Regions from separate parts of the Homo sapiens genome. Here all the other regions are linked to region 1. Evidence: fine-mapped expression QTL. A gene starts in region 1. Each other region holds a variant in brackets. All regions are shown on one strand. Distances are between the middles of the regions.

What was found. PIP is the estimated chance that this variant, and not a neighbour inherited with it, causes the effect. A credible set is the group of variants that fine-mapping cannot tell apart.
Region 2: its variant is the best candidate, but not a certain one, in a credible set for the expression of LYG1 in whole blood (TOPMed, PIP 0.54).
Region 3: its variant is the best candidate, but not a certain one, in a credible set for the expression of LYG1 in tibial nerve (GTEx, PIP 0.84).

The regions. Positions count from the first base shown.
Region 1 is chr2:99,294,885-99,306,204 of GRCh38, forward strand. It overlaps LYG1 (lysozyme g1), which reads right to left and starts at 6,313. Exons shown (of 7, transcript NM_174898.3): 1 at 6,166-6,313; 2 at 3,575-3,665; 3 at 744-818. The coding sequence starts at 786. The region is part of intron 1 of LOC107985923 (a long non-coding RNA gene); the gene reads left to right. It also overlaps a transcript of TXNDC9 not described here.
Region 2 is chr2:99,362,261-99,373,580 of GRCh38, forward strand. EIF5B (eukaryotic translation initiation factor 5B) reads left to right here. Exons shown (of 24, transcript NM_015904.4): 5 at 1,385-1,602; 6 at 2,011-2,161; 7 at 6,233-6,331; 8 at 7,132-7,221; 9 at 9,396-9,470. Among named protein-coding and RNA genes, the nearest start is that of EIF5B, 31 kb to the left of the region's middle. The variant C/T (reference allele first, on the strand shown) is at 5,286.
Region 3 is chr2:99,453,865-99,463,456 of GRCh38, forward strand. It overlaps REV1 (REV1 DNA directed polymerase), which reads right to left. Exons shown (of 23, transcript NM_016316.4): 3 at 8,632-8,758. Among named protein-coding and RNA genes, the nearest start is that of REV1, 31 kb to the right of the region's middle. The variant C/T (reference allele first, on the strand shown) is at 4,161.

The DNA.
Region 1 (11,320 bases):
CGAGGTCAAGAGTTTGAGACCAATCTGGCCAACATGGTGAAACCCTGTCTCTACTAAAAATACAAAAATTAGCCGGGTGTAGTGACAGGCGCCTGTAATCCCAGCTACTTGGGAGGCTGAGGCAGGAGAATCGCTTGAAACCGGAAGGCAGATATTCCAGTGAGCTGAGATTGCACCACTGCACTCCAGCCTGGGTGAAAGAGCAAAATTCCATCTCAAAAAAAACAAAAACAAAAGCAAACCAACAAAAACAAGTACTTTCCCTTTTTCCTCCAGCTGCAAAGCTGAAGTTCAATCACAGCAACTAAATCAGCCTCAGTGATTAGCTTAGTCATGTGTACTCGGTTGCCTTGATTCTGGTTTTCTATTTGAATTAGTCTTATTCATTAGTCTTATTCTGGCAACCACCTCAATTCTTCTATGGAAATAAATGCTTTAGGAATAAATTCAATTTGGCATTTTTTATAGTGGACAATGAGCAGCTATTGATGGTGTATATTTAAAGTCTGGCTTCAAGCAGTGCTGTTTTAAGCCCACCTTGCATTCCAGAGAACCCCAATCTTTTGTGGGACATTTGGGGAGAGGCTGATTGTTGGTGGCTGTTCCTAACTCCAGGATTTGTTGGACAGTTTAGGGAAAAAATAATCTTTTTTGTTGCATTTTCAAGTATTAGAAGTGCCATTGTGTTCCTGTGCTTATCCTTCCCATCTCCAAAGTCATTTGTAAAAATCAGCCACACTCACCCATCAGGGCAAGGAGGCCCAGCAGCAGCCACAATGCAGACATGATGACGATCTGGCTCTACGGCTCCTGAAACACTTTTAAAACAAAAATTAGCTTGAGAATACAAAAATATCAGTCATCATCATAACCACATGTAATATTTCCACAGAAGCAGGGGTGAAAAGAACAAATTTCCCCATATCTGACCTAAGAAAATGAATTATTTGAATCATAGTGAAAAAAAAGCAAAAGTAGGACAAGTAAGTGCTCCATTCATCCTTTCAATTAATCTAAAAATGAGAAGACTCTTACTCAGCCCACAGGAACTCAACATACAGTCAAGTTACTAACTACTTTATTTCAAGAAGGCAAGACACTTTGAATCTCAACCACCAAGAAACATACTGACCTGGCTCCAGACCCTGAAAAGCAAATTTCTGATGCCCATACCTCATCCCAAGAGCCTTTTTATTATCTCCATTATCAAAAGGAGAATTTTGTATTGGTGACTTCTTGGAATTTAGGTCCCTTCTTCTTCAGGTTTGAGGAAAGACCACGCTTTCCTCAGTGCCCTGGAATGTACACTGGTTGGAAGACGTTTCCCACTGCTCTAACCCCAGCCTGGAATCACAGACCCCCTTTATCACCTTGAGCCATGTTCCCCATTCCCCCTCTGTAAAACCCCAATGCGGCAACAAACCTGGACCAGAGCCCAGGGAGAATGGAGCTACCTCCACCAGCAAATCCCCAAGAAGCTGGCTCATGGGCAGGGGTCCCAGGATTGAACTCATGAGGTGCTCACAAGACTGGAGAATGAACACGTGGCCAACATGGAGCACCCGCTCATGTGCTCTCTCTCTCTCTTATCCCAACCATTCCCCTAATCACCTTCCATGAGTACAAACAGCCCTGGTTCTCCTACTGGCTACCAAACCAATACACAAATACCACCAAGGATAGTTTGCTGTTAACCTCAGGGAATGGTAGAGTTTCTGGACCTTTGCCTCCAAAGCGCCTCCCACCAAGCCCTGCCACTCCAGGGTGTATGTCATCATTGCCCCAGTCAGCAGAGCCTGGCAGCCTAGCATTTTGAATTATTACTGTCATTACATGTAGGAATGTGCATATAAACAAGGCACTTGGTACTTTCATAATGCTTCTCTCATCTCTTTTGTTTTGAGGTTAACCTTATGGGTTGTTTCTTTCAAACACCCAGGAAGAGATCACATCTCAAGATGGAGAGGCTTTAAGGAAGTCATTTGAAGCCAGGTGTGGTGGCATACACCTGTAGTCCTAGCTACTTGGGAGGCTGAGGCAGGAGGACTGCTTGAGCCCAGAGGGTCAAGGGTGCAGTGAGCTATGATCACACCACTGCACTCCATCCTGGGAAACAGAGCAAGAGCCTGTCTCAAAAAAGAAAAAGGAAGTTATTCGATTTCTGTCTTCTTAAACTGAGGGGGCATATGCCCTTCAGTTGCAGTCATGCTTTTTGTTATTCTCTCTACAACATTGAGATGGTCTGTCCGATTTTGCTTAGTTGAGCACAAAATGTCATGGTCAGTCCCAACACCAAAAAGATTCAGGGACCTGGAATCTTAGCTGGGTCTGCAGGAACGCTCAGATTTAATCACCCAACAGGAGTCATTTATTCAGCATCCTGAGCCTCCAGCAGTAAACAAGAGAGGACAACCAATCCCAGGAGAAAAGAATGGACAAAGAGCTGCTTGGGTATAGGAAAAGCTCATGGTCTCATGAAAGTGCATCACTGGCTTTATGGAAGGACCCTTCAGGAAAAAGCACTGCTCACATTCAAATGCTCCACCCAGGGTATTTCACTCTTTTTGCTGCTTTTCCAGGAAAGAAAAAATACTTCCTCTTGGAAACCCAAGTGGAAGGACTCAGCTTTTATTGTAACAGGAGAGCTACCGTATTTTCCATGCTTGGAACTAAATATCTGTGTTGAGAAGTCACTTTAATGAAAGAGTCTATGTAAATACATGTGCCACTTAATGGGAACACAGAATTACTTTCTAGTTGCTCCTGGGACCAGGTCATCAAGGTAAAGTTTTTCAATTTCATCAGGGAAGAGCAAGAAGTGACAATGGAATTTTTCTTTTTTTTCTTAGAGCCAGAGTTTTACTCTGTCACCCAGGCTGGAGTGCAATGGCACGATCACGGCTCACTGCAGCCTTGACCTCCTGGGCTCAAGTGATACTCCCACCTTAGCCTCCCAAGTAGCTGGGGCTAGAGGTGTATGCCACCATGCCCAGATAATTTTTTAGTTTTTATGTAGAAATGGGTCTCACTATGTTGCCCAGGCTGGTCTTGAACTCCAGGCTTCAAGTGATCCTTCCACCTCAGCTTCCTGAGTAGGTAGGGTTACAGGCTCAAGCCACCACACCTAGCTTGGAATTCTTAAATGGATGAACAATGTCATTTTGTCCATAAATACAGCATATTGAAGCAACCCAAACTCTATGGCCCAACTTTACAAGTGACGAAAAGTACTCTGTGTTTAGAAGAGATTGTTGAGACATCACTCGGGTGTGCTCAAAGAGTGTCTGTCAGTTCCCTATGACTCATTTGTTAATTCCCCTGTGGCTCCCTGCTTAAAACCATTATGAAGATGTCAGACCAAGGCAGCACAGTGGTCATGATGTCAAGCACAATGTTTATGGTAGCATCCCTCTTCTCCCTTCCCAGAGAGCAAAATAGTAACAAACAGCAAGGGGGTGTCAACAAGCTGGGGCAACAGGCCTGCCAGGCACACTGGAAACTGACAACCAGAGCATCCCTCAGGAGCTACCTCATGTTCCTGGTGGCTTTGATGGGGACATCTTCCTCTACTCACCCTCTCTCCACTGAGTACTTTGGAATTCCCAAAGCACTGTGTAAGTTTGTAAGGCATAATGGACCATGTCTTCTTCAGTTCATCAATTTTTCTAGAAAAGGTAGAAACAGGTATCTTTGGTCTTATGGTTTTCTCACCTTAGAAACTTTTCCATGAATGCTCTCAATCTTTACCTTGAACAGTATCATTGCAGGTCATTGGGGCCCTCCATCCAGCCCAGAAATGTGACGTATTAACACCTCAACGTGCCCAATGAAGGTGCCCCTGCCCCATTGTGGTGTCCCCATCTAATCCTGAGAGAACTGAGAACTCCTGTATGCATCCACATTAGGCATGGTCTCCTGCTCTAAGCTGTGTTGTCACCCTTGTTTATTGCTAACATGTCTCTGTGTCTACCTACTCATTGTGTGCCAACAGGCCTTTCTTTTTTTAATTTTTTAATTTTAATTTTAATTACTTTTTGTTTTGTTGGGTTTTGCTTTGTTTTGTTTGAGACAAAGTCTCACTCTGTCGCCCAGGCTGGAGTGCAGTGGTGCGATCTCAGCTCAATGCAACCTCCGCCTCTTGAATTCAAGTGATTATCTTGCCTCAGCCTCCTGAGTAGCTGAGACTACAGGCACTCCACGCCCAGCTAATTTTTGTATTTTTAGTAGAGATGGGGTTTCACCATGTTGGCCAGGCTGGTTGAGAACTCCTGACCTCAGGTGATCCACCCACCTCAGCCTCCCAAAATGCTGGGATCATAGGCATGAGCCACCGCGCCCAGCCCCTGGGTTTTTTTCTTTTTCTTTTCTTTTTGTTTTTTCTTTTTCTTTTTCTTTTTTTCTTTTTTTTTTTTTTTTAATCGAGACAAGGTCTCACTCTGTCTCCCAGGTGGGAGTGCAGTGGCCCAAAATTGTGGAATCATCTCACCATTATAAGCCTGTAAGAATGTCTCATTAGATTACTCTTTAATTTTTAAAATTGTTTTAATTTTTTTTTTTTCAAAACATAGTCTGACTGTCACCTAGGCTGGAGTGAAGTGCTGTGATCTCGGCTCACTGCACCCTCGACCTGCCTGAGCTCAGGTGATTCTCCTGCCTCAGCCTCCTGAGTAGCTGGGATTACAGCCCTGTGCCACCACGCCCAGCTAATTTTTGTATTTTTAGTAAAGACGGGGTTTCGCCATGTTGGCCAGGCTGGTCTCAAACTCCAGGGCTCAAGCAATCTGCCTGCCTCAGCCTCCCAAAGTGCTGGGAACCACCAACACCTGGCCTGTTTTAAAATTATTTTTAATTTTTTATTATTTTAACTTTTTAATTTTTTTAATTTTTGTTTTTTTAAAATTTTTAAATATTTATTTTATTCCATTTTTAAAATGTTTAAGTTTTTAAATTTCTTAAAGGCCTTACCAGTAGCATCATGTCGTACTCATCCTCTTCTTGCTATTCTAATCTTCTCCCTCCCTACATATATACACACACACGTACACACACACACGTACACACACACACATGCACGTACAGCAACACTCCAGCCCATTGCCTCACAGATTGCTATGCACCAACAGGCCTAAAATTAAAATAGTAATAGCAATGTAGTCACAAATATAAAATAATATAAAATTATTCTGCCACTAAGATCTTTTTTTTTTTGAGAAAAATACAACTTTTTAGAGCAAAAATATAGGGCAGCAACAGGAAGGCTCATTTTAAGCTGTTACGCTGCGTAGAGCTGCACCTTCACATGGCCTGTGAAAATACCTATTCACTGAATTTGGATTGTAATCAATAATTACCAGCCTAGAAGACCTCTGAAAGTTTGATCATTTTCTTCCCTCTGGGCAGGCAAATCTTCCCTGCATAGAGACACTGTGAGCTGGAAGGGAGTTCCTTCTCTCAGTGCGTCCTCTGTGCCTGCTTTTCCCATTTGCGTTTTTGAGAGTTCAGAACTCCAGGAAGGATCATCCTATGCTGGAGATTTCCCCGTGAACGTTTCCTTCTGCACAGAGCAAATCAGGGAGACTTGGCCCCTCTGTTCCGTCTATGGACTCTAGAGGCGTATCTGTCTTTTTAGTCTGTTAGCCGAGGCTGTTAGACATGTTGGCCTTAGTTCTTACACAGCTTGCAGAGAAAATAAGATTGTTATAGAACCAATACTCATGGTCTATGGGTTAATGTAGCATTGGCAAGACTGCCCATGAGGGCAGGCAAGGGATTTACCGTCTGGCAAAATACAAACACCTTAGTCTTTTGGCTTTCAGTTAACAAATATGACGTCGCATTTGGCCCTATTACAGCTACAGTTAAGTGCACACACATTTCTTTTCTCCCATTATTCGATTTGCACATGCTCACAAATCCAAAAGTAATGACATACTTGCATTAAAAGATATCTAAATTTTGATGAGTGTTGTAATGAACAGGAAAAATTATTCTATCATCTACAAATCTTTTCAAACTTGGGTTTTCTTTGCAAGGTCCTTAAGTTTCGCCTGAGTCCAATATTTCTTATGCAGCAGAGACACAATCATTGCCAACTGATCACCATACACTGGATTTTCATCCTCAATAAGCCCGAGTGTAAGATCCATGCCTCTGCTTCACACTCACCTGTCTTCAGTCAGTGCTCCTCCTTAGAGGTGGTGAGCCCACAGCGATTTATATAGAGTCCTGTTCTCTTGTTAAAAGTGTTCATCTCATCCTATTTTGGAGAGATTTATGACATCTCATAAATTATAATAATAATCATAATTATTATAAATACTCCGAACTTATATAGGGCCTTTTATTCGAGAATGTCCTGGCATTTTGCAAACATTAACCAATTTGTTTCTTGCCATACCTCAGAAGGCAGATCCTAGTTGTAGTTTAACTTTGACACATTGAGGTCCAACACTTGTCTTTATTCACATCATTTTCTGGGAATGTGGGTTAGGTAAGAAAACAAGGAAGGAAGAGAGAGAGAAAGAGAGAGAGAGTGAGAAGGAGAGAGAGAGTGAGAAGGGGAAGGGAGGAAGGGAAGAGGAAGGGAGGAAGGGAAGGAAGAAAGAAAAGGAAGAAGGAAGGAAGGAAGGGAGGGAGGGAATTGAACTTGGTGTGTCAGAAACTCATTATTGGTTTGTATTTCAGGTAAGCAGAGCGCCTAGACCAGGGGTTGGCAGCTTTTTCTTACAGACCCAGACAGGTTTTTGGGCTACGTGGTCTTTATAATGCCTCTGACATTGTAGCATGAGAGTGATCATAGATAATATTTAAATGAATGGCCAAGACTGTGTTCCAAAAAAAAAACTTTCTTTACTACACAGGTGGTGGCCCTAGGGCCGTAGGTTGCTGGCCCCTGTTCTGAACCACCGAGAGATACCAGTTCACATGTCCTCAGTTCAGCAATGTGGGGAGAGATGATCGGCTGGATGATGCTATTTTACAGACACCCAGGACCTACAGCGTGTTCCAAATGTCTACATCAATAAGTACTTTGAGAGGGTTCATATGAAGTTTCCAGGAAGGATTCTTTCCCAAGTTGTGGAAAGGGTGCATTTCATGACTGAAAGAGGGAGCCCCCTCCCTCACCACACCCTGTGCCCCAGCTCAGCTGAACAGCTTGATTTTCCCCAAACACAGCGCCATTCTTTGCACTAGGCATTCCTACAGGATCTTTCCTTTTTATCTAAACCCTCAGGGACAGGGGCTGTGTCTCATTCGTCTTTATAATACCAGCATGCAACACTCTGCATGATACATATTAGACACTCAGTAAAACACGTGGAATCAATGGCTTGCTTATCGGCTGACTGGTATACAGTCTGTTTCTTCTGCATCCCCTGCCTTAGCTCCCTCCCCATACCACAACTCAAACACAAGCTCCGTGAGAGCTGTGAATCTGGCTACTTCATTTATAAGACTGAGTCTTCAGTGCCCAGATAACAGCCTGGCACACTGTAAGTGTTCAGTAAATCTTTGTTGAATCAGTCAATGACTGAAGAATTCCTACAACCTCACCCAGCAAGATTTGGACTGGGCTTCCAATGCTGGGCCCCAGGTTAGACGTGTGTTCCTTGTGTTTCAAGCAACATGTGGATATTTCTACCATAGCACCTACAGCACTTTGGTTTGTTGTTGTCTTGAGAACAAAAACAAAGGCTTTTTTCTCCTGTATTCCTTATGGCACATAAGGGGTATTCAGTACATGTTTACGGAATGAGTAAATGAATGATTTAAAGCGTATTTATGACTTTTTGGAAGTCACTCACTCTGCATCCCCAGTGCAGACATTGAGGGTTAAGATTTTGTTATTCTCAGCCGGGCACAGAGCCTCACGTCTGTAATCCCAGCGCTTTGGGAGGCCGAGGCAGGTGGATCACTTGAGGTCAGGAGTTCGGACCAGCCTGGCCAACATGGCGAAACCCCATCTCTACTAAAAATACAAAAATTATCCAGGCATGGTGGCACACACCAGTAATCCCAGCTACTCGGGAGGCTGAGGCAGGAGAATCAGTTGAACCAAGAGGGAGAGGTTGCAGTAAGCCAAGATCATGCCAGTGTACTCCAGCCTGGGCCACAGAGCAAGCCTCCATCTGAAAAAAAAAAAAAAGAAGATTTTGTTTTTCTCTACTTGTGACTGAGATGGTGAGACCACAAGGCAGGGCACTGTGAGCAAGGGTCCAGATTTGGACACCCAGGGAGTTCCTGAACTTTAACTCTGGGAGGGGAGTGTGAGAACACTGGGTTCCTCTCGGTTGTTGGCAGAGTTGGGGTAAAAAGAGAACTAATGCACCCATTAAAAACTCTATCCTGACCCCCAAAATGGAACTCATCCATTTTATTTTTTCCACCAAGCTCTAGCACATACCAACAATTAAAAGGTATTACAGTGTGGGGAAATCTGGGGATGCCCAGCTCCACCTACAAAAGCACCCTGTCATCAGCCCAGAGGGCCATGTTAGCATCCTGGGAGGTTCTCCTGGGCAGCAGCCAGCATGTTGCCTGGCAAAGGCTCCACAGAGACGAAATGGCTTCTCACAAACCCTGCCTCTCTATGATGACTTCCACCTCCTCACCTGCTGCACCTGGGTCCCCACCCTAAGAATCCTAGAAGCTGAGGAGGTCGTTCTCCATCCAGCCTCCGGGACACTCCGCAGGCACATGACGGTCAGATTTATGTTTTAAAAAGTGTCCCCTGGCTGCTGATTGCATTGGAGGTGAGCCAGAGTGACTCGGGAGACTTCACAGAAGACCAGAAGAGAGATGATGGTTGGACTAGAGTGACGGGGCTATGGCTTGGCTGTGTCTCCACTGAAATCTCATCTCAAATTGTAGCTTCCATAATTCCCTTGCATTGTGGGAGGGACACAGTGGGAGACAATTGAATCATGGAGGCAGTTTCCCCCATACTGTTCTCCTGGTAGTGAATAAGTCTCAAGAGATCTGATGATTTTATAAGAAGAAACCCCGGCCGGGCACGGTGGCTCACGCCTGTAATCCCAGCACTTTGGGAGGCCCAGGCAGGCGGATCACGAGCTCAAGAGATAGAGAACATCCTGGCTAACACAGTGAAACCCCGTCTCCACTAAAAATACAAAAAAATTAGCCAGGCGTGGTGGGGGCACCTGAGACTTCAGGGGATTGTTGGGAAGGCAAGATTGGTTTTGAAATGTGAGGACATGAGATTTGGGAGGGGTCAGAAGTGGAATGATATGATTTGGCTCTGTCCCCACCAAAATCTCATCTCAAATTGTAGCTTGCATAATTGCCTTGTGTTGTGGGAGGGACCCAGTGGGAGACAATTGAATCATGGAGGCAGTTTCCCCCATACTGTTCTCATGGTAGTGTATAAGTCTCATGAGATCTGATGATTTTATAAGAGGAAACCCCTTTCACTTGGCTCTCACTCTTCTCTTGTCTGCTGCCATGTGAGACATGCCTTTCACCTTCCGCCATGATTGTGAGGCCTCCCCAGACAAGTGGAACTGTGAATCTGTTAAACCTCTTGCTTTTGTAAATTGCTCAGTCTCAGGTATGTCTTTATCAGCAGCATGAAAGTGGCTAAGAGAAAAAGGAAAGATATTACAGATCTATTTTAGAGGTGGAATTGACAGGACTCAGTTTGGGACAAGACGCCAAGGATGAGAGCAAAGAAGAGGACATAAGTGCCTGGGAGGATGGTACTAAGTCTGGAATGCTGAAGATGAAAGCACATTTACCAAAGAAGATGAAGTTTTAGGCTGGGTGGAGTGGCTCACGTCTGTGGTTCCAACACTTTAGGAGGTCAAGGCACTTCAAGACCAGCCTGGGCAACATAGCAACATCCTGTCTCAATTTATGAAAAAGAAAAAGAAAGGATTATGTTTTAACTCCCATGTAACAAACCTACACGTGTACACCTCAATCTAAAAATGTTTTTAAAGAGAAAAAATAACAAATTGTGGTGTAGATATGGAGAAATGGAGCCCTTATACACTCTAGGTGGGTATATACACGAATCTAGCCATTATGGAAAACAGTATGGAGATGCCTCAAAAAATTAAAAGTAGAAGTGGCATATGACCCAGAAATCTCACTGCTGGGTATGTATCCAAAGAAAATGGATATGTCAAAGGGAAATATGCACTCCCATGTTGACTGCAGCATTATTTGTAATAGCCAAGACACAGAATCATCCTAAGTGTCCATCAACACATGAGTGGATAAAGAAAATGCAGTATATACACATAATGGAATAATATTTTGTCATTAAAAAGCATGAAATCCTGTCATTTGCAGCAACACGATCAACCTAAAGGACATTAAGTGAAATAAGGCACAGAAAGACAAAATCACCCATTTGTGAAATCTAAAAAAGTTGATCATGTGTAATGGCCAGGTGTGGTGGCTCACGCCTGTAATCCCAGCACTTTGGGAGGCCGAGGCAGGCAGATTACCTGAGTCGGGAGTTCGAGACCAGCCTGGCCAACATGGTAAAACCCCGTCTTTACTAAAAGTACAAAAATTAGCCGGACATGGTGGTGGGCACCTGTAATCCCAGCTACTCAGGAGGCTGAGGCAGGAGAATTGCTTGAACCTGGAAGGTGGAGGTTGCAGTAAGCCAAGATCCCGCCACTGCACTGGGAAACAGAGCAAGACTCCATCTCAAGAAAAAAAAAAGGCGATCTCATAGAAGTAAAGAGCAGAATAGTGGCTACTAGAGGCTGGGGAGGAATGGGGAGAGATTGGTTGCATGCAAAATTACAGCTAGATAGGAGGAGTAAGTTCTGGTGTCCTATTGCACACTGCAGTGACTATATTTAACAATATTGTAGTGTATACTACAAAATATCTAAAAGGGAAGCTATTTAGTATTCTCATCAATTTGAGGTGATGGATATGCTAAATACCCTGATTTGATCATTACACAACTTATCCCATAAATCTATGCAATTCTTATGTATAAATTAAAAATAAAACTTTTACAAAATATATAATATCTTTTTATTTTGAGACGGAGTCTCGCTCTGTCACCCAGATGGAGTGAGCGTGATCTCAGCTCACTGCAACCTCCGCCTCCTGGGTTCACACCATTCTCCTGCCTCAGCCTCCCGAGTAGCTGGGACTACAGTAGCCTGCCACCATGCCCGGCTAATTTTTTGTATTTCTAGTAGAGGCGGGGTTTCACCGTGTTAGCCAGGATGGTCTCGATCTACTGACCTCATGATCCGCCGGCCTCAGCCTCCCAAAGTGCTGGGATTACAGGCATGAGCCACCACACCCTGCCTCATGATTTCTTATAAGT
Region 2 (11,320 bases), 67 kb after region 1:
CATGCTAAAATTAGTGTCTTTTAAGCAATAATGAGCCATTTTTTTAACAACCAATTATAAAATAAAAGTTCTAGCTAATTTCTTCCTCTTATTTAGAATGAAAATAGCTAAAGATCAGATGGTTTGCATGGCCATACTATATTCTTAAAACAGTAGTTTTTGGGCTGGGCGCGGTGGTTCACGCCTATAATCCCAGCACTTTGGGAGGCTGAGGCAGATCACGAGGTCAGGAGATATAGACCATCCTGGCTAACATGGTGAAACCCCATCTCTACTAAAAATACAATAATTAGCCGGGCATGGTGGCGGGCGCCTGTAGTCCCAGCTACTCGGGAGGCTGAGGCAGGAGAATGGCGTGAACCCAGGAGGCGGAGCTTGCAGTGAGCGGAGATCGCACCACTGCACTCCAGCCTGGGCAACAGACTGAGACTCTGTCTCAAAAAACCAACAAAAGCAGTAGTTTTTCTTTTGACTGGAAAACTTTTAATGGGAAAATTGACACAACTTTTTTTTTTGAGACGGAATTTCACTCTTGTTGCCTAGGCTGGAGTGCAATGACACGATCTCAGCTCACTGCAACCTCCTCTTTACAGGTTCGAGTGATTCTCCTGTCTCAGCCTCCCAAGTAGCTGGGATTACAGGAGCCCGCCACCATGCCCGGCTAATTTTTGTATTTTTAGTAGAGATGGGGTTTCGTCATGTTCGCCAGGCTGGTCTCGAACTCCTGACCTCAGGTGATCCATGCACCTCAGCCTCCCAAAGTGTTGGGATTACAGGTGTGAGCCACCGTGCCCAGCAACTTTTTTAAATGCTAGCATATTTATTATCTGGATATATTCGAGGAGGAACACCATGAAAGTACCTTCATAGCTTTTAATTCTTTAGAGTTCTTGGAGTATAACTACCTATATTTTTGTATTTTATCCTACTAATACCCCCTAAAGTGGACATCATTCTCATTAACTCCATCTTGTAGAAGTGAAATTAGCTACAGAACTTACGTGGGTGTTAGTTCATTCTGATTGTTAGAACTTCATATAAGCATCTGTTGGACACCAGCCACTCAGGTACCATGGATTTAGAGATACATTAGGTACAGGATTGCCCTTTTGCTGCTGACAGTATCCTTCTGTCTTACTGTATTCCTCAGGACATCTGAGACCAACATCAGTATTGCAGACTTCTCAGGAGGCCATCTGTGAGTTATTCTGAGCTATTCTAGTTACCAAAGTGCTCAGGATGCCTTGATGCCTGTAGAACTTAGCCTGCTGCTGGCATCGGCCTTGGCCCATTATGGTCCTTGAATTGTGGTTGGGTTTTGCTCGTCATCACCACAGGGAATTGTTTTTTCATTTCAATGCTTTGCCTTTATTCTTTTTGGTAGATGACAATGAAGGAGACAAAAAGAAGAAAGATAAGAAGAAAAAGAAAGGAGAAAAGGAAGAAAAAGAGAAAGAGAAGAAAAAAGGACCTAGCAAAGCCACTGTTAAAGCTATGCAAGAAGCTCTGGCTAAGCTTAAAGAGGAAGAAGAAAGACAGAAGAGAGAAGAGGAAGAACGTATAAAACGGCTTGAAGAATTAGAAGCCAAGCGTAAAGAAGAGGTATGTTTTCATGAAGTTGGTAACATTGATATTGTGTTTAACTTAAAATCTATTCTCTGTAAAATATCTTTACTCTTCTAATTCTGAAAATTTCATAGTTGCATGGTAATTCAGTTATATTATTGTTCCGATACAAATAATAAGATGAAGAGGTACAGCACATCTTATCTTTATTTTCTCAAGAACAGATTGCTCGATACATAAGTTGCTTATGTATCATTGCCAATAATCTGATGTGATATTAATTAATAATCATGTATAACATTTAAAATACTTTGATTTGGAATCTCCTAACATAATACTTTGCATGTGTCTCAAGAGATTTATTTGAAGTTTGGATTGTTTACATTTGAATTTTATAGTTCATTAAATGAATACAGGTTTTGTCTGACATGTACTCTTTTATAGGAACGATTGGAACAAGAAAAAAGAGAAAGGAAAAAGCAAAAAGAAAAAGAAAGAAAAGAACGCTTGAAAAAAGAAGGGAAACTTTTAACTAAATCCCAGAGAGAAGCCAGAGCCAGAGCCGAAGCTACTCTTAAACTGCTACAAGCTCAGGGTGAGTGGTACTCTTCATTAACTGAATGGTCAGAGAGCTCTGCACATGCAGTTATATCCCTTAATGTTCAGAAGGAGAATGGAATTTGCATCAGGACAGTTCCTATGAAAAATCTGTGAAAAAGTTCAGTAAAACGTAAGGAATAGGTGATGTCATTTCATTGTTTAGGAAGATGACATCTACATGAGGATAAAAATTTATATGTAAATGATAGTATGTCTAAATAAGTTATCCTCCCACAAACAAGAATAGTGATAATAATAGAATGAGTCCCTGTGTACCTATCAGCCAGCTTCAACAATTAGGACCATTTGACATTCTTGTTTTGTACCTCTCCATCTACTTTTTATCCTAGCATGTTTTAAAGTGAATCCCAAAAAATAAAAAAGAAATACAGTGATTCCCAGACAGCATATTAGTTTGCCCACATGACCACGGTGAAAAAGTATTCATGACCATTTTTTTTTAACCCTTTCCTTACTTTCTGATGCAACAAGATATCCCAGGTTCATCTTGCATGGGCTGAGACCTGGAATCGGTTGTTTATCCAAAGAGCTTTTGTTCCTTTTAGAGGGTAATAGTGTTTAGAGATCACAACTGGGCATATAATTTATTACTTTTTTGAAAGGTAAGGTGATTTAAAATAGTGTCTTTGCTCCAATGAGAAGAATATATTGGGACCTCTCTTAAATTTCCTGCTCCTATATTCCCTAGATTTTTATATTACAGTCATTTTGGTGTTTATGCTATAATTACAGTAATAGCTACCATTTATTGTGTGCTTAGTGTGTAACTGATGCTACAATGTCTTTGACATTGTCTATTTTTCCCTCATAAAAAAATCTTATAGCTATTTTTACTTCCATCATATAGATGAAGAAATGGTGGTTCAGAGTGTAAACAGCTTACCCAAGGCCACAGAGCTGAAATTTAAGCTGGTCTGTGCAACTTTTTCTTACGCATATGTTCAGCTAGGAACATTAGATGTGAAGAAACCCAGTACTTAGATTTTAGAAAGTTTTATTCTTAATGGAGAATATAGCTTTTGTAAAATTTTAAATGAAATTAGGTACAAACTTGAATATAGTTAGCATTCATACATCAGATTTCATTGGTGACTATTGGAGAGGCTAAAAGCACCCATGAAGAAATTCAGATGGGACCAAGCAGGGAGTAATTTGCCAGTCTCAAAAATGCTGTTTTAAGGAGCAGTTAGACTTGTAGTTATGGAAATTACAGTGTAGAATGGTGGACTTTTAGCATCAGTCTTTAGCATTAGGCTTGTAAGAGATGCTCTCTCAAGTGGCATCCCTGACGCTGGTCTCTTACTCTTCATAGTGTTGTCCAGTGTTTACCATCTTATTAGTTCCCTATTGTCTACTAATAAGAATCCAAATTCCTTAGCTTGACATTCAAGGTTCCCCCCCACCCACAGCCCACTCATGTGAGTCATCTCATTAAAAGATCCTACAGTGTTGTTTCATCGTATGTTTGAAAGACAGCTGCTTACCACATTTATTACCTAGAATATTGTAAAACTTATTCATTGAGCTAAAAATGTACTCTCAGAGAGTGTAGGCATCTGCAGGTGTCTTCATATAATTGCTCTGAAATGTGCAGCAGGTTAACTTTTCAGTCATCCTTTAGCCTGTGACTACTAAGCATATACACACACACACATATATGAGTACTTTATCAATAATTTGTAATAAACTCATTTCAGGCAAAGAGCTTCTTCAAGAACTTGATTGTTATGTCTCAGTTTGCAAAGTGAATGGAATGTCTAAACACATACAAGTCTTGGTGTTGATTCCAAGTACAGCAGCTTATTTGAGAGTCTGAGACTAGAGCAGTAGTCAGTTGATTAAGTCTAGGGTGTTATTGGGACCACCCTTCAGGTAATCCAGCCTACAGTTTCCCCTCAGGCCCATGCTTTTCATCTTAGTAGGTGTAGGCTGCTAGGCAAGGAAAACTTAAAGTGATGATCTCTGCATTCTCAGCTGGCTTTATCCTCTTTCTTTGGTTTGTTTAATGTATTCGTCTTACCAGTCATAGCTATGGTTTTACCATTCTAGCCATTCTTCAGTACATGCACAACACACATCCATATACATTCCTACGTTAGAGATAACATTTTTAGTCATTTTCCTTTATTAGTGACTTCATTCAAAATCCCATGGTATACAATTTCTGTTGTCTTTATTCTAAGGCTTCTGCCCATAGTGAGAGACTGAGTCAGTAATCCAGTAATCTGTAGATTCAGTTCAATCCCAGTCAAAATCACAGCATGGTATTTTGTAGCTATCTGTCAACTAGTTCTAAAATGGATATGAAGAGACCAGAGAGTTAGAATGGCCAAAATATGTTTGAAAAAGGAGAACAAACTTAGAATACCTGATTTCAAGACTTAGTATAAAGCTATAGGAATTAATACAGTGTGATATTGCCAGAAAGATAGACAAACAGATAAATAGTCTATACATGGTTAGTATATAGGTGAAAGGTAATTCAGTGGATAAAATACAGTATTTGTAGCAAGTGGTACTAGAACAATTGGACATCTGTATGCAGAAAAACCCAAAACCAGTTTTAATTCCCACTGTATAAAAATTGACCCAAATGGGTATCATATGTAAATGTAAAATATACAATAATACTTTCAGAGGAAAACATAGGAGGATATCTTGTGTTAGGCAGAGTGCTTAGATAGGACTCTAAACCATAAAAGGAAAAAAGATACATTTTGAGAAAGACCAGTTCAGAACTTTTCTCTGCAAAAGACACTGTCAAGAGAATTCCAAGACAGTACCTCCAAGTCAGATATCTGAGAAAGAATTAACATCCAAAATATATAAAGACCTCTCAAAATTCAACTATAAGAAAACCAATAAGTTCATTTAAAAATGGGCAAAAGGTATCAACAGACACTTTCACCAGAAAGCTATACGCATCTGAAAAGAATGTTCTAAAAAAAGAGAAACCTTTACCACATTCAGAGCAGTTGAAACTCTTTTTTTTTTTTTCTCTCTTTTTTTGAGACAGAGTTTCGCTATTGTCCAGACTGGATTGCAGTGGCGCAATCTCAGCCCACTGCAACCTCTGCCTCCCAGGTTCAAGTGATTCT[C/T]CTGCCTCAGCCTCCTGAGTAGCTGGGATTATAGGCACCCACCACCACAATATATATATATTTTATATAATACAATTTTTTGTATTTTTAGTAGAGATGGGGTTTCACCATGTTGGCCAGGATGGTCCTGGACTCCTGACCTCAGGTGATCCACCCACCTCGGCTTCCCAAAGTGCTGGGATTACAGGCGTGAGCCATTGCGCCTGGCCAAAACTCTTCTGCATTAGTGGTGGGAATGCAAGATAGTATAGCCACTTTGGAAAACAACTGGCAGTGTCTTTATAAAAATTAAGGTCATATTTACCTTATGTTTCATCATTCACACTACAAAATATTTGCCCAAGAGAAATGTTCACACAGAAACCTGTCTGAAAATGTTCATACCTGCTTTATTCATAATTGCAAAAAACCAGAAACAACTCAAATGTCCTTCAGCTGTTGAATGGATAAGCAAACTGATATATCCATACAATGGAATGCTGCCCAACAATGAAAGTAAACGAAGTATTGACATGTGCAGCAGAGTGAGTGACTCTCAAATCCATTATGATGATAGAGGCCAGACCGTAAGATTCCATTTATGTGACATTTTAGAAAAAGCAAATCTTTTGGTTGGAGAACAGATCAGTGGTTACCAGAGGCTAAGAAGGTAAGGAGGGTTTGATTACATGGAGCAGCACAGGATGATGGAGTGATGGAGCTTTTCTGCATCTTCATTGTGATGGTGATACACGTATCAAAACTCTCACTGTATGTGAAACGAGGATTTTTACTGTATGTAAATTTTAAAATACCTTATATGTAAAAGATACAAGTTTTTCCATGAATATCCTTTCATATTTTAGGGTATGTGTCTCTGTGGTGAATGAAATGCTATCCTTTAAATAGTACTTCTCAGGTGACATGCAAGTAGTATAAGCCTGAAGTTTTTCATTTTTATCCCTCAGGTGTTGAAGTGCCATCAAAAGACTCTTTGCCAAAGAAGAGGCCAATTTATGAAGATAAAAAGAGGAAAAAAATACCACAGCAGCTAGAAAGTAAAGAAGGTTTGTATACAAAATAGCCTCTAATTTAGGAAATATGTTGTTTGCCTTTCCCCCACAATCTTCAAAACAGTGTCTGTAAAGAAGAAAGGAAAAAATCCGAAATGCATATTGAAACTTATTTTCTAAACTTATTTCTTATTAATGCCATTATTCTCACTTGATTCAAATGACAAGCTAATGGAAAAAGTATTTTACTTTGAAAAATCTGGGTTCTACCCTATGAATATTGTAACTGTTGTTAACTCTGAGAAGTAAAACTACCATTCTTATCTTTTCTTGGTTTCCTTCTTAGCCTTCTGTGATTTTTGTATTTTATTTATTGAGCAGAAAGAGTAGTTTCCTGTAAAACATATGACTATATTTAAACATTTTCTAAACTTGAAGAAATAGGTTTGCACAGGCTGGGTACAGTGGCTCACGCCTGTAATCCCAGCACGCTGGGAGGCTGAGGCGGGCGGATCACCTGAGGTCAGGAGTCCAAGACCAGCCTGGCCAACATGATGAAACCCTGCCTCTACTGAAAATAAGAAAATTAGCCTGTCATAGTGGCAGGTGCCTGTAATCCCAGCTACTTGGCAGGCTGAGGCAGGGAGAATTGCTTGAACCCGGGAGGTGGAGGTTGCAGTGAGCTGAGATTGTACCACTGCACTCCAGCCTGGGTGACAGAGCGAGACTCCATTTCAAAAAAATAAAAAATAAATAGGTTTACACTACTGTTTTTTATTCAGTACTTAATGGAGTATCTTAACAGAAATTATACACCAAAAAAAATATTATCTTGGTTTCTGCCCCTTTTTCAGTGTCTGAATCAATGGAATTATGTGCTGCTGTAGAAGTTATGGAACAAGGAGTACCAGAAAAGGAAGAGACACCACCTCCTGTTGAACCAGGCGGGTAGTGTTATCTGATTATTTAATTAGTGAATTCTTATTAAATAGTGTTGGTGTGTCATAAGTTGTCTTAGTTATTATAAATAATTGGGGAGAACCAAATAAGTATCTGGCTGGATGGCCCTCTTTCTTCATAGTTCTTTCTTTTCTATTTCTTTTCATTTCTACTTTGAATAAGTATCCAAGTGAGACTTGAATCAGTTGTGTTCTTTTCAGCAGTGTTAGAAAATGTTTTGTAGAAAGGATACACTTTGGGAGGGTGAGGCAGATGGATCACGAGATCAGAAGATCAAGACCATCCTGGCTAACACGGTGAAACTCCATCTCTACTAAAAATACAAAAAATTAGCCGGGGGTGGTGGCGGGTGCCTGTAATCCCAGCTACTTGGGAGGCTGAGGCAGGAGAATTGCTTGAACCTGGGAGGCAGAGGTTGCAGGGAGATTTCAGTGAGCCTAGGTTGCACCATTGCACTCCAGCCTGGGCAACAGAGCAACAGTCCATCTCAAAAAAAAAGGAAGAAAGGATAGTAGGTTTTGGATTTTCTCTGATGCTTTTATTTATGAGTCAGAAATCTCAAAAAAAGATCTGAAGGTCTTCATTTAATGCTTCAGAAGCAAATTGGAAGGATTTTTAACTAGAACTTTTTAAGAACCATAAAAATTGGCATTTTTAGACCTTCCTAAAGGTCGGCTTCTATTTACAATAATCAGAGAATTCAACTTACTCATTGTGGGGTATCTGTGTATATGTTGAGGAGTTGGGGAAAAATCTCTGGTTTTAAAAAAAAAACATTGTTCTAACTCTTACGACTAGATATTGATGGGAGAGCTGGGGCTGCCTAAATGTATGTTTGGTATTCAAGAGAATCCCCAGCGATTAAAGATAGGATCAGGAATGGGAAAAGCCTTTACAGAATACTAAGCCTGATTTACATTGGTGAATTATATTATTGATAGTTCCTTTCCTTCTTTTTCTCTTTTCTCTTCTGAGCGAATAGGATCATCTCACCTGGGTAGACCTCAGCCTAGCACTGATATGACGAGATTAGAGAAATTTAGATTGATATGCTTAATAGCAGTCCACTATTTTAGATCGTATTTTTAGCACCAGAAAGAATTGCTAATTTAGATGGATGTTTTGGGTACCTGAGTCTCATTTCCTCCTCAAGATAACTTATGCAGGCTTGTTAGTAAATAATGATTATTTCAGGGAAGCAGGTACCACATGTCCTACCCGTCATCTTACTTTCATTTAAGAATAGTTGTGCCTGGTTAGATTTCAGTAAAGAAAAGCATTCTTGTTAAGAAGAGTATTAGGTCTTTAATGTCTAAATAATATTCAGAATTTTAGCTTTCTGGCTGTTTTGGGGTTATGAGCACAGCATTGACCCAGAGTGATGGTGGTAGTTTTGTACCTTCAACTTCAGAATTTAAGTATATTTAAATACCTGTAAAGGTTAAAAGCAAAATAATAAATTCCTTGCATAAAGTATGAGTTGGATGATCAAAAAGAAGATATATATGAAATTTCATTTGTTTTCAAGAACTGAGTATATTCATGTAGCTTTTTCAAGATCTAAAGAAACATTTAAATTAATTAAATTAATGAAACAATTAGCTTGAATGTAAAATTGGTTAAGTTTAATATGTTGGCAGTAGTAGGAAATGGAAGCATTTAAGTAATAGTAAATTATAACATGCTAGCTATATTAAAAAGATAGTTCTGGCTGGGCGCGGTGGCTCAAGCCTGTAATCCCAGCACTTTGGGAGGCCGAGGCGGGCGGATCACAAGGTCAGCAGATCGAGACAATCCTGGCTAACACGGTGAAACCCCGTCTCTACTAAAAATACAAAAAATTAGCTGGCCACGGTGGCGGGCATCTGTAGTCCCAGCTACTTGGGAGGCTGAGGCAGGAGAATGGCGTGAACCCGGAAGGCGGAGCTTGCAGTGAGCCGAGATCACGCCACCGCACTCCAGCCTGGGCGACAGAGCAAAGACTCCGTCTCAAAAAAAAAAAAAAAAAGATAGTTCTAAAGATAATAGCTGCATACATATTTTTTACATAATTAAAACATTCTTTTTTTATGTCAGAGCATAATTTTTTACTTTTTTCTAAAAGACCTTCATATTTCTAAATAATTTTTGTGTCTTAAATGCAAATTTTTACTTACAGAAGAAGAAGAAGATACTGAGGATGCTGGATTGGATGATTGGGAAGCTATGGCCAGTGATGAGGAGACAGAAAAAGGTGAATACCTCATAAGCACACACTGATACATCCAGTGGTTATTAGAAATGAATGATATATATTTAAATGAATAGTCTTTTGATTATGAAAGCCATATGAACATTTCTGGGGATAGGGATAAGTCTCTTGTTCTCTCCTTTGCCATGGTTTCTAAGTCCTCAAGTGGATCTTCATTTTGTGAATGAGTGGTTCCTCAGAATGTTATTTGTAAGATAGCTGCCTAAGGTTTAGAATGCATTTTTTCAGAGTGATGATGTTACAAAATAGGGTTGTTACTAAAGCTGACCTACAAAAAGCACTGTTAACTTAAAAGGTAATGAGATAAATACTATAGTTCCTGATAAGTATGAATAGAAAGTAAACGTTTTTGTCATTGTTTCCCCTTCTTTATTACTGAAATCTCTACTTCGAGATTTAATTTCCTGTTAATTTTACTAACTTACTGATAATGATATCTGGCTCTTTGATTTTTTTCAGCCTCCCCCCATCTTTGTTTTTAAAGCTATACCTTTTTCTTTAAGCATGGCTTTAGTCAAATTCTGTAAGTCTGATATGTTGATATTTTCTCATTTTCATTTTGATGTATTAAGTTTTACAAGATTTATTTAGTGTATTTCTTTTTTTTGAGATGGAGTTTCACACTTGTTGCCCAGGCTGGAGTGCAGTGGCGCAATCTCGGCTCACAACAACCTCCACCTCCCGGGTTCAAGCCATTCTCTTGCCTCAGCCTCCAGAGTAGCTGGGATTACAGGCATGCGCCACCACGCCCAGCTAATTTTGTATTTTTAGTAGAGATGGGGTTTCTCCATGTTGGTCAGGCTGGTCTCGAACTCCCGACCTCAGGTGATCCGCCCGCCTTGGCCTCCCAAAGTCCTGGGATTATAGGTGTGAGCCACCACAGCCCGCCTAGTGTATTTCTTAATTTACAAAAATGGGCATTTTCTAATTGTCTTTTGTTACTTCATTGTGATCAGAGAAGATACATGATTCTATCCTTTGAAATATGTTGATTATTGCTATACAACCTAGCATGGTCAGTTATTGTAAGTGTTTCATGTTTGGAAAGAATTTATATTCTGCAGTAGTTGGATGCCTTGCTTTCTATATTTAGGTCAAGTTTGCTAATCATTTTGTTCAAGTCTTTCATAGCGTTCTGAGGGTTTTTTTGTTTTTGCTTTTGTTTTTTTTCTGATCTGTTTTTTCTCTCTGTTACTGGGACCAATGCCTTAAAATCTCCCATCATGATTGTAGATTGTCTATTTCTCCTGAGTTCTGTTAATTTTTGCTTTATGTATTTTTATGCTGTGTCATTAGGTAAACACAATCTTGTATCTTTCTAATGAATTGACTCTTTTATCATTGATATATATATTTCTAACAATGCCTTTTGATATAAAAGTCTACCTAAAACTCATATAGGTACACGAGCTTTGATTTACATGATCTTTTTCTATCTTTATGACTCTTTTTGTATCCGTAAATAGCATTATCTTAGTCCATTTGTTCTGCTGTAACAAAATACCACAGACTCAGTAGTACTAAAGAACAGAAATGTGTTTCTCACAGTTCTGGAGGCTGGGAAGTCCAAGATCAAGGCACCAGCATTGGTGCCTGGTAAAGGCTGCTGTCTGCTTCCAAGATGGCACCTTGGTGCTGCATCCTCCAGAGGGAAGGATGGCTGTGTCTTCACATGATGGAAGGGAGGGAAGGGCAAGAGGAGCAAACTCTCTTTGAAGGCACTTTTCTGCGGGCGTGAATCCATTTATGAGAGTGACTTAATCACTCCCCAAAACCTTCCCCACCACCCTCCTACCTCCTACCAGCAAAATGGGGATTATGTTTTAAACATG
Region 3 (9,592 bases), 160 kb after region 1:
CCTGGGTGACAGAGTAAGGCTCTGTCTCAAAAAAAAAAAAAAAAAAAAAAAATCAAAATAAAACAAAACTAGATTCAGGGAAATTCTATCCTCCAAATTTTTACAATCAATGTCACTGTTTTGAAATGTCAGAGTGAGTGCTTTTCTCCTCATTGTTCTTTGCCTTTTTATTTTTTATTTAGAGACAGGGTCTGGCTCTGTCACCCAGGCTAGACTGCAATGGCTCTATCATAGCTCACTGTAACCTCAACCTCCTGGTTCATGCTTGTAATTTGAAAGATTTGGGAGGCTGAGGCAGGAGGATCATTTGAGGCCATGAGTTTGAGACCAACCTAGGCAACACAGCAAGATCCGTCTTTTAAAAAAAATCCACAAAAAAACAAAAACAAAAACAAACAGAAAAGGCTGGGCACGGTGGGTCACACCTGTAATCCCAGCACTTTGGTAGGCCACAGCGGGTGGATCCTCTGAGGTCAGGAGTTCAAGACCAAGTCTGACCAACATGGAGAAACCCCGTCACTACTAAAAATACAAAATTATCTGGATGTGGTGGCATGCGCCTGTAACTCCAGCTACTTGGGAGGCTGAGGCAGGAGAACCACTGGAACCCAGGTGGCAGAGGTTGCAGTGAGCCAAGATCCCGCCATTGCACTCCAGCCTGGGCAACAAGAGTGAAACTCCAGCTCAAAAAAAAAAAAAAAAAAAAAAAAAAAAAAAAAAAAAAAAACCCAAAAATTACGTGTGGTGGCACACACCTCTAGTCCCAGCTACTCAGGAGGCTGAGGCAGGAAGATCCGTTGAGCTCAGGAGTTTGGGGCTGCAGTGAGCTATGATCAGTCTACTGCACTCTAGCCTGGGCAACAGAGCTTATCTTAAATAAACAAATAAATAAAATTCCACAATACTCCTACTATTAGTTTTATTTTGCAGAACATTCTATATGCAACTAAATTTGAGGTTTAACTAAAACCAGACATAGTGACAGACAATTGAAAGCACAGTAAAAGTAAAAGCCATATACAAGGACCACAATTTAGCCCACGTTTAGACCTAAAGCCCTACAAGTAAAATGTCACAAGAGCAAATGCCACCATATAACATCAAAACAGCCATATGAAGACCACTTTCACGTCTGTAGGCCCAGCTTATAGAAAGTTTTGCTCATCTGGTTAAAACAAATTCTATAAACAAAATTTTTAAATCTTGCACAAAAGCTTTCCTAGCTAGATCTCTATTGAGAAAACATTTACTATATGCACCATTTCCTCCTGCATATCCAAAGAACTTAATTAATTGTTGACTGTGCTATATAAATCACAGAAAGAAGTGAGGTGAATGGCTGCTTATACCTCCTTTGCTCCTACCATGGCAACATCTTCATTATTTCATTTGAGTTTCACAATCTTATGAATTAGAAAAGATAACTTATTGATGAGGCAACAGAGAAAACTTACTGTGCATACCCTTCTGTCTTTGGACTCCTGTCCCTCAGTTTCTGCAGCAGCAATACTACTCTCTTGACTCTTCTCACCCCTAACTACCTCAGACTTACCAACAGAGTCACCACAATCAACTAAAAGCCACGGATACACTCAACCAAACAAAAACTGAAGAAAAGTTTCAAATGCTTAGGGAACAAATTTTTGAGTACCAACTAGGTGCAAATTTCACATCAGGTACTAGCAAAATTACAGGAGGTGGCATAAATTAATATGGTAAGTCTTCTATGTCAGAGGTTCAATTCCTCCATCTCTTATCTACAAGATGAGAGTCTCACAGGAAATGGAAGGAGAGATATTATATATCCATACAAAATAATATCTGGGAGGCATTTATTTCCAAAAAATTAGACTTGTCAACACTAAAGAGAATCCTCTCCTAAAACACCACATTTGTATGTTTAGAAAACATCAATGTAAGCTGTCAGCTTTCAAACAAATCCTTATTTGAAATATAAGTCTGTTACACTTGCATATTCCCCCTTGTTTCATTTTGTGAATTGTGCTAAAGTACTTGTCCGGGCCCCCCTCCACCTGCTTTTTCACAAACTTCAGCAGTGCCAAAATCAAAAGACCTGGTCTTTTACCCATGTACTAAAGGAAGTAGAAAATAACCTGAACACCTCTTTCCATATGAACTGTCCCAATCTCACACCACTAAAGTGCAACCACTGTCCACTAAGTCTGAAGCACTCACTCCCCCTGGGCAGCTTTCACAAAAATAAACATGCCCAGAGCCTACCTCCCAGATTACAATGCAGGCCTCAAATGTGGCCCATTCCTTAAGACTGAGTTGATTTAGCATCTGAGTGAAAATATTTTAACATTCTGATGTACAAATACAAAACCTGTTATTTATTTATTCATTCAACTAATACTTATTGAGTATCTACAATGTGCCAGGCAAGGTTCTAGGCACTGGAGATATGGCAATGAACAAGACTCAAGTCTGTGCCCCGTGATAGCACTTGTATTCCACTGAGGAGACAAAAATAAGTCATGCAAGTAATACCATTTTAGGTGCAAATAAATGAAGAGGAAGGTGGATAAGGGGTTAGAGAGCGACTGGAGGGCAAAGTACACCTGTTTTAGATAGGTGAAGTCAGGGAAGGTCTCCGTAAAAAGGTAACATTTGAGCAGAGATCTGAATGATGAAGACCTGAGGAAGCAGAAGGAACTGCAAATTTAAGGCCCTGAGGTGTTATCTCTAATCCATGTTTGGCAAGGGATTACTATACATAAAACAGGCTTCCTAACGCCAAAGAACTTAATATAGAATTAAGACCTAACAACACAAGACAAAATCCAGGTGTCAAAATAAATGTTTCTAGCAATAATGCTATGAATTATATATCTCTCTATATAAAATACTACTACTATGGACTGGCTTAGACAGGGAAGGAGGCAAAACCTAACTATATCTGGATCTTAATGAATGAATATACTTCCAGTTCACAGAAGTGAGGAGGGAAGGAGTTTTTCCTCAGAGGCAAAAGAACAAACAGAAACACAGAACTGTAAAAGTAAAAAGACAAATCTAGAATATCAGGGTAATCTTGTTGAGCAAAATTTAAGAACATGAGGTTGAAAATGTAGGTCAGAATTAGGACTAGAATGTCTTTCTCCATTTTCATTTGGAAAATGCCTATTTATCTAAGACCAAGCTAAACATTTCGATTCCTTTATGAAGTATTCACTCCCACTCCCAAAGGCAATTGTTTCCTCTTCTGTGTTGGCACTCACCCTCCTCTGTTGATGTCTAAGGCTTAGAGATTACTTTTTCATCACAAAATCCACATTCTCCATCAACTGCTATCTCTTTTCAAACATAGTTCCTAACCCACAAGCAGCATCCAAAATATATCTGTTCAATCAACTAAAGAAAAATAAAATGGGATATAAGGTCTGTAAACTAGAAAACTCAACATAGTAAAGATGTCAATTCTCCCCGAACTGATCTACAGGTTTAATGTAATTCCTATCAAAATCCCAGCAAGGTATTTTGTGGATAAATGACTTATTTTAACATTTATATAGGTCAGGTGCACTGGCTCACACCTGTAATCCCAGCACTCTGGGAGGCCGAGGCAGGCAAATCACCTGAGGTCAGGAGTTCGAGACCAGCCTGGCCAACATGGCGAAACCCCATCTCTACTAAAAACACACAAAAAATGAGCTGGGCATCATGGCATGTGCCTGTAATCCCAGCTACTCGGGTAGCTGAGGTACAAGAATCGCTTGAGCCAGGGAGGCAGAGGGTGCGGTAAGCTGAGATCATACCACTGTACTCCAGCCTGGGTGACAAAGTGAGACCCTGTCTCAAGAAAAAAAAAAAAAAGAGAGAGAGAGGCGTAGGTCCTAGAATAGCCAGAATTATCTTGACAAAGAAGAAACAAGTGAAAGCAATCACTCTACCTGATATCAAGGCTTACCACATAGGTACAGTATTTGATATAGTGTGGTACTGGTGAAGGAACAGACACAAACATCAATGGAAGAGAACAGAGAACCCAGAAACAGATCCACCAAAATATGCCTAACTGACTGTGTTGCAACAACTGGAAATCCACAAATAAAAAAAAAAAATTGTAAAACCTCAAAATGAAACATTAACTTCAATGTAAAACATAAAACTATAAAATCTAAAAATATAGAAGAAAA[C/T]ATTTGGGATCTAGCACCAAAGTGACAAGTTCTTAGACTTGCAAGCACAATCCATAAAAGGAAAGATCAACATATCAGATCTCATCAAAATTAAAAACGTTCTGCAAAAGACCATTTCAAGAGGATGAAAAACTACAGACTGGGAGAAAATACCTGCAAACCACTTTTATGACAAAGCAGTAGTCTCTAGAATATATAATGAAATATCAAAACTAAACAGTAAAAAATACTAAATCCAATTAGAAAATGAGGAAAAAAATATGAACAAATGTTTCACCAATGATGATGTAAAGATAAGAAATAAACACATGAAAGAATGTTCAACATTATTAGCCACGAGGCAAATGCAAATTAAAATCACAAAGAGATACAACACCATCTATTAAAATGGATAAAATGAAAACCACTGAATGCTGGCAAGGATGCAAAGAAAGTTGATCCCTCATACAAGGCTAGTGGGAGTATAAAATACTACAACCACTTTGGGTAACAGTTTGGCAGTTTCTTACAAAAACTAAAGATGTAACTATTACGGGAACCAACAACTGTACTCTTCTTATACTCATACAAAAACTCATACACAAATGTTCATAGCCTACCAAGAAATAACTGTGATGTCCCTAACAGATGAAAGGTTAACAAACTGGTACATCCACACTATGAAATATAACTGAACAATAAAAAGGCAACAATTTTGATGACCTGACAGATAATTTATGCTCAGTGAAAAAAGCCAGCCCCAAAAGGTTATATGCTGTATGTTTTATTTATATAACATTCTTGAAATGACAAAATTATAAAAATGGAGACCAGATTAGTGGTTGCCAGGAGTTAAGGAAAGGCGGAGAACAGAAGTGGGTGTGACTATGAAAGAGTAACATGAAAGATCTTTGTAGTGTGGAGGCCGGGCGCGGTGGCTCACACCTGTAATCCCAGCACTTTGGGAGGCCAAGGTGGGCAGATCACGAGGTCAGGAGATCAAGACCATACTGGCTAACACGGTGAAACCCCGTCTCTACTAAAAATACAAAAAATTAGCCAGGCGTGGTGGTGGCCACCTGTAGTCCCAGCTACTCGGGAGGCTGAGGCAGGAGAATGGTGTGAACCCGGGAGGCAGAGCTTGCAGTGAGCCGAGATCGCGCCACTGCACTCCAGCCTGGGTGACAGAGTGAGACTCTGTCTCAAAAAAAAAAAAAGAAAGATCTTTGTAGTGTGGAAATGTTCTGTATATTAACTGTATCAGTATCAATTTCCCAGTTGTGACACTGTTTGCAAGTTTATTACATATTACCATTTGGGGAAACTGGGTAAAGGGTTCACAGTATCACTATGTGCTATGTCTTACAACTGCATGTGAATCTACAATTATCTAAAAAAAAATTAATTTAAAAAATGGATAGGCCAGCCATGGTGGCCCATACATGTAATCTCCACACTTTGGGAGGCTGAGGCAGAAGAATCGCTTGAGCCTAGGAGTTTCAGATCAGCCTGGGAAACACAGCAAGACCTTGTCTCTACAAAAAATTAAAAAATCAGCTGGACATGGTGGTACACACTTGAGGTCCTAGCTACTTGGGAGCCTGAGGAGAGAGGATGGCTTGAACCTGGGATGTTGAAGCTGCAGTGAGCCGTGATAGTGCCACTGCACTACAGCCTGGGTGACAGAGGGAGACCCTATCTCAAAACAAAGAAACAAACAAAACAAACAAAAAGGATAGAAGGCAAAGAAGTCAATCTTAACAAGCAAAAAACATTTTTGGGGCCAGGTGAAGGGAAGAATAGGTTGACAGGTGAACTATTAGAGGGTCTTCCCTCCAAGTTCAAGTTCAATGTTAACTGGGTTGGAAGGTATAGGGACTACGAAATCATGAGAGGCTCAAATGGCTGAACTGGGAGCTTTAAAGGAATCAAGAACACTTGGATTATTACAGTTTGTGGGGAGCATGGTTAAGAATCAACAAGAAGGGACACCACAGCTTCTTTTACAGTGAAAACTGCATCTCCCAGGTTTGCAAACTGTTCACTGGAATGAAGTCTCTTTCCTCCAAATTCCTTTTCAGAGAACTTTCTATTTTCTTTTTTTCACTCTATCGCCAGGCTGGAGTGCAGTGGCGCAATCTCGGCTCACTTCAACCTCCGCCTCCCGGGTTCAAGTGATTCTCCTGCCTCAGCCTCCCGAGTAGCTGGGACTACAGGCGCACGTCACCACGCCCAGCTAATTTTTGTATTTTTAGTAGAGACAGGGTTTCACCATGTTGGCCAGGATGGTCTCGATCTCTTGACCTTGTGATCTGCCCGCCTCGGCCTCCCAAAGTGCTGGGATTGCAGGCGTGAGCCACCGTGCCTGGCCTGAAAACTTTCTTTCACAATAGCAATGAGCAAAACTGACAAAGTCTGCACCTTTGGTGCTTACATGCTAATGGAGAAGAAAGATGATACCAAAATATATATATAGGCATTTTACAAAATAGCTGACCAGTACTCCTCAAGACTGTGAAATAAAGCTTATTTTTTTAAATCAAAAACAAAATAGCACCTCCTACTTGTCTTATTACATCTAAAGAGTTATTTTTACTTGCTAATTGTTAATGCTGTTTTATCTATAAAGTGGTAAAGTATTCACTAAAACTTAATTTTTCTAAAAATAAAGTTATTTTACAGCACCACAGTTTGGATATCTCGGTGAAATTCAGCATAATGGAACTTTATTTGTACAGTTATAATGAAATCTTAATAACAAGAGCAAAAATATTATCATCTCTATCCTGCAGAAAAGGATAGAGATAATAACAGATCTAAACAGAAAATGTTTTACAGTCACACAAAAATTAGTGATAAAAGCAGATTTAGAATTCCAGATTCTCAATCAAAAAGTGATTACTGCAATATTCATTTTTCTTCCCTCACACAAAGAATCTCTTTTTCTTCCTCCTATGTGAATAAGGGTGCTCTCTTGAACTGGAGACTTCCATGACTGGCTAATGTAAGAAGCAATGCCTGTTTTCATTAACGTTTTAATTTTTCATAGAGCATCTCAGGAAGTCCACAGAGCTTGAATTTGTCAGGATACCTTCCTACACAGAAAAGTTACAAGCTTTCTGCATGTGAACTTCCCAATGCTGCACCAGCATTTATTTTGAGATGACATTCTTGGACTAAATTCATCATCAATGATGCCTAATAAAACACTTAATTACAAGCAACACACTCTTCTCTTACTAAACCAGATAAATGTACCAGTTAATTAATACTTAACTCCAATTCAACAAATATGTCCTGAATGATTGTGTCCAGTCACTGTAGAGGCACTAAGGATATAGTGATGAAAATGTAGCTCCAGCTCTTGTCCAGTAAACAGACAACTATGGAAAGGTCTGAAGAATTCTAAGATGCAGATTCATTCAGGGAGCCATAGCTCCAGAAGAGCACAAGAAGTCACCTAAATCAGTATGAAGACAGTCAAACTATCAAGGGAAAGCGAGGCATGGAGACCTGAAAGATAGCAGGTATCAGCCAGCTGAGAAGGGGACAGGGGAATATGTAACAGACTGACACAAATATTTACAGCCATTCACTTCAAAAAATACAATGAAATGATAAGAAGAAGAATCCCCAAGAAAATAGAGAAAAATTTAGGCAGAAAACCTGGTAACTAACAGGCAAGTGCTAACTGACTTTACAGTTCAGCGAAAGATAAAACTGAAGCTGGCCATATGGAAGCTTGGAAAGAAGCTGCTTGTTACCAGTAAAACAAAGAGAAAGTCATGAAATAAACACACAGGCACCTTCAAAAGTGGATGTGTGGATAAATTCATCCTTGAAACTGTGCAACAGGCAAAGAAGCATTTGCACATTTCTTTCCTTTCACCAAGAATAAAGACTACACTACCCCTTCCAGATACCGGACTCAATGACAATAGGCACAGCTGGTGGGGAGGAGGTAGGAATGAGAAAATGAATAGAGAGACTAAGTGAAATTTTACTTCCTAAACTGTGAGAATTCAGGTCCTTTCCTTCCCTGCTTGGCGACCCAAATGCTGGCAGTTTACACTCTTCTACAGACAAGAGAGTAAAAGATTCTTCTCTAGGAAATCTGACACTGACACACACCCACACACCACCCCACCCTAAAGGACCTATGGACAATGACATCTAGAGATTTACCAATGAAATGGACCTACAGTGAAGCTCACAGTTTACAAGTCCTACTACCCATGTGTGGTAATTTCCCGTTTTTCATTTTAAACCTCACGTGACTTTTTGAAACTATGTACTTTGATAAAAGTTAAAGACAATGGCAGGTAAAAGCAACATGGAAAGGAAAAAGAAGTATCTAAGCAGATGATTTATTTCTTCTCATCTTACAATCATTTGTCTATAATAAATGAGTAAAAATAGAATTTTAAAACAAATCATTCTCAATCCTAATAAAAATACATGCCAAAATAGGGTTAAGTAAAAAGTACTCAACCTGTGTATCCATTAACATAGATGGCAACTCCACTAAAAATTGTAGATGAAGTCCCATCCTTCTGCATAGCAGCATCTGATCGAAACTGTTCCTCCAATTTCTGGACCTTGGCAGCCATATACCCACCCTAGAATTAAAGAAAAGGTAAACCAATCACAAAGGTTACATTTTCTCCCCCCTTTTTTGAAAAAAAAAAATTTTAAAAACTAAATAAATAAATGGACCTTATTCTGTGCTAGTGACCAGAACATAATGATGACCTCATAAACATAAACCATAAGGCAAGGCAATAAATAAAACAGGAAAGTTGGGCCGGGCGCAGTGGCTCACACCTGTAATCCCAGCACTTTGGGAAGCTGAGGCAGGCGGATCACCTGAGATCAGGAGTTTGAGACCAGCTTGGCCAACATGGTGAAACCCCGTCTCTACTAAAAATACAAAAATTAGCCGGGTGCAGTGCCAAGTGCCTGTAATCCCAGCTACTCGGGAGGCTGAGGCAGGAGAATTGCCTGAACCCAGGAGGTGGAGGTTGCAGTGAGGTGAGATGGCGCCACTGCACTCCAGCCTGGGTGACAGAGCAAGACTCCATCTCAAAAAAAAATTATAATAAATAAATATAAATACATAAAACACATAGGTCAAAGAAGAATTTTCCCTCTATCAACTCAAGTTTTAATTTTATTACATTCTTATGATTATAAAAGTTACTTTTAAAAAAAGCTAAGTCAATAATAATAATACTGGCTGGGCACAGTGGCTCACACCTGTGATCCCAGCATTTTGGGAGGCTGAGGTGGGCAGATCACCTGAGGTCAGGAGTTCGAGATCAGCCTGACCAACATGGTGAAACCTCGTCTCTACTAAAAATACAAAATCAGCTGGGTGTGGTGGTGCATGCCTGTAATCCCAGTTACTCAGGAGGCTGAGGCAGGAGAATCGCTTGAACCCAGAAGGTGGAGGT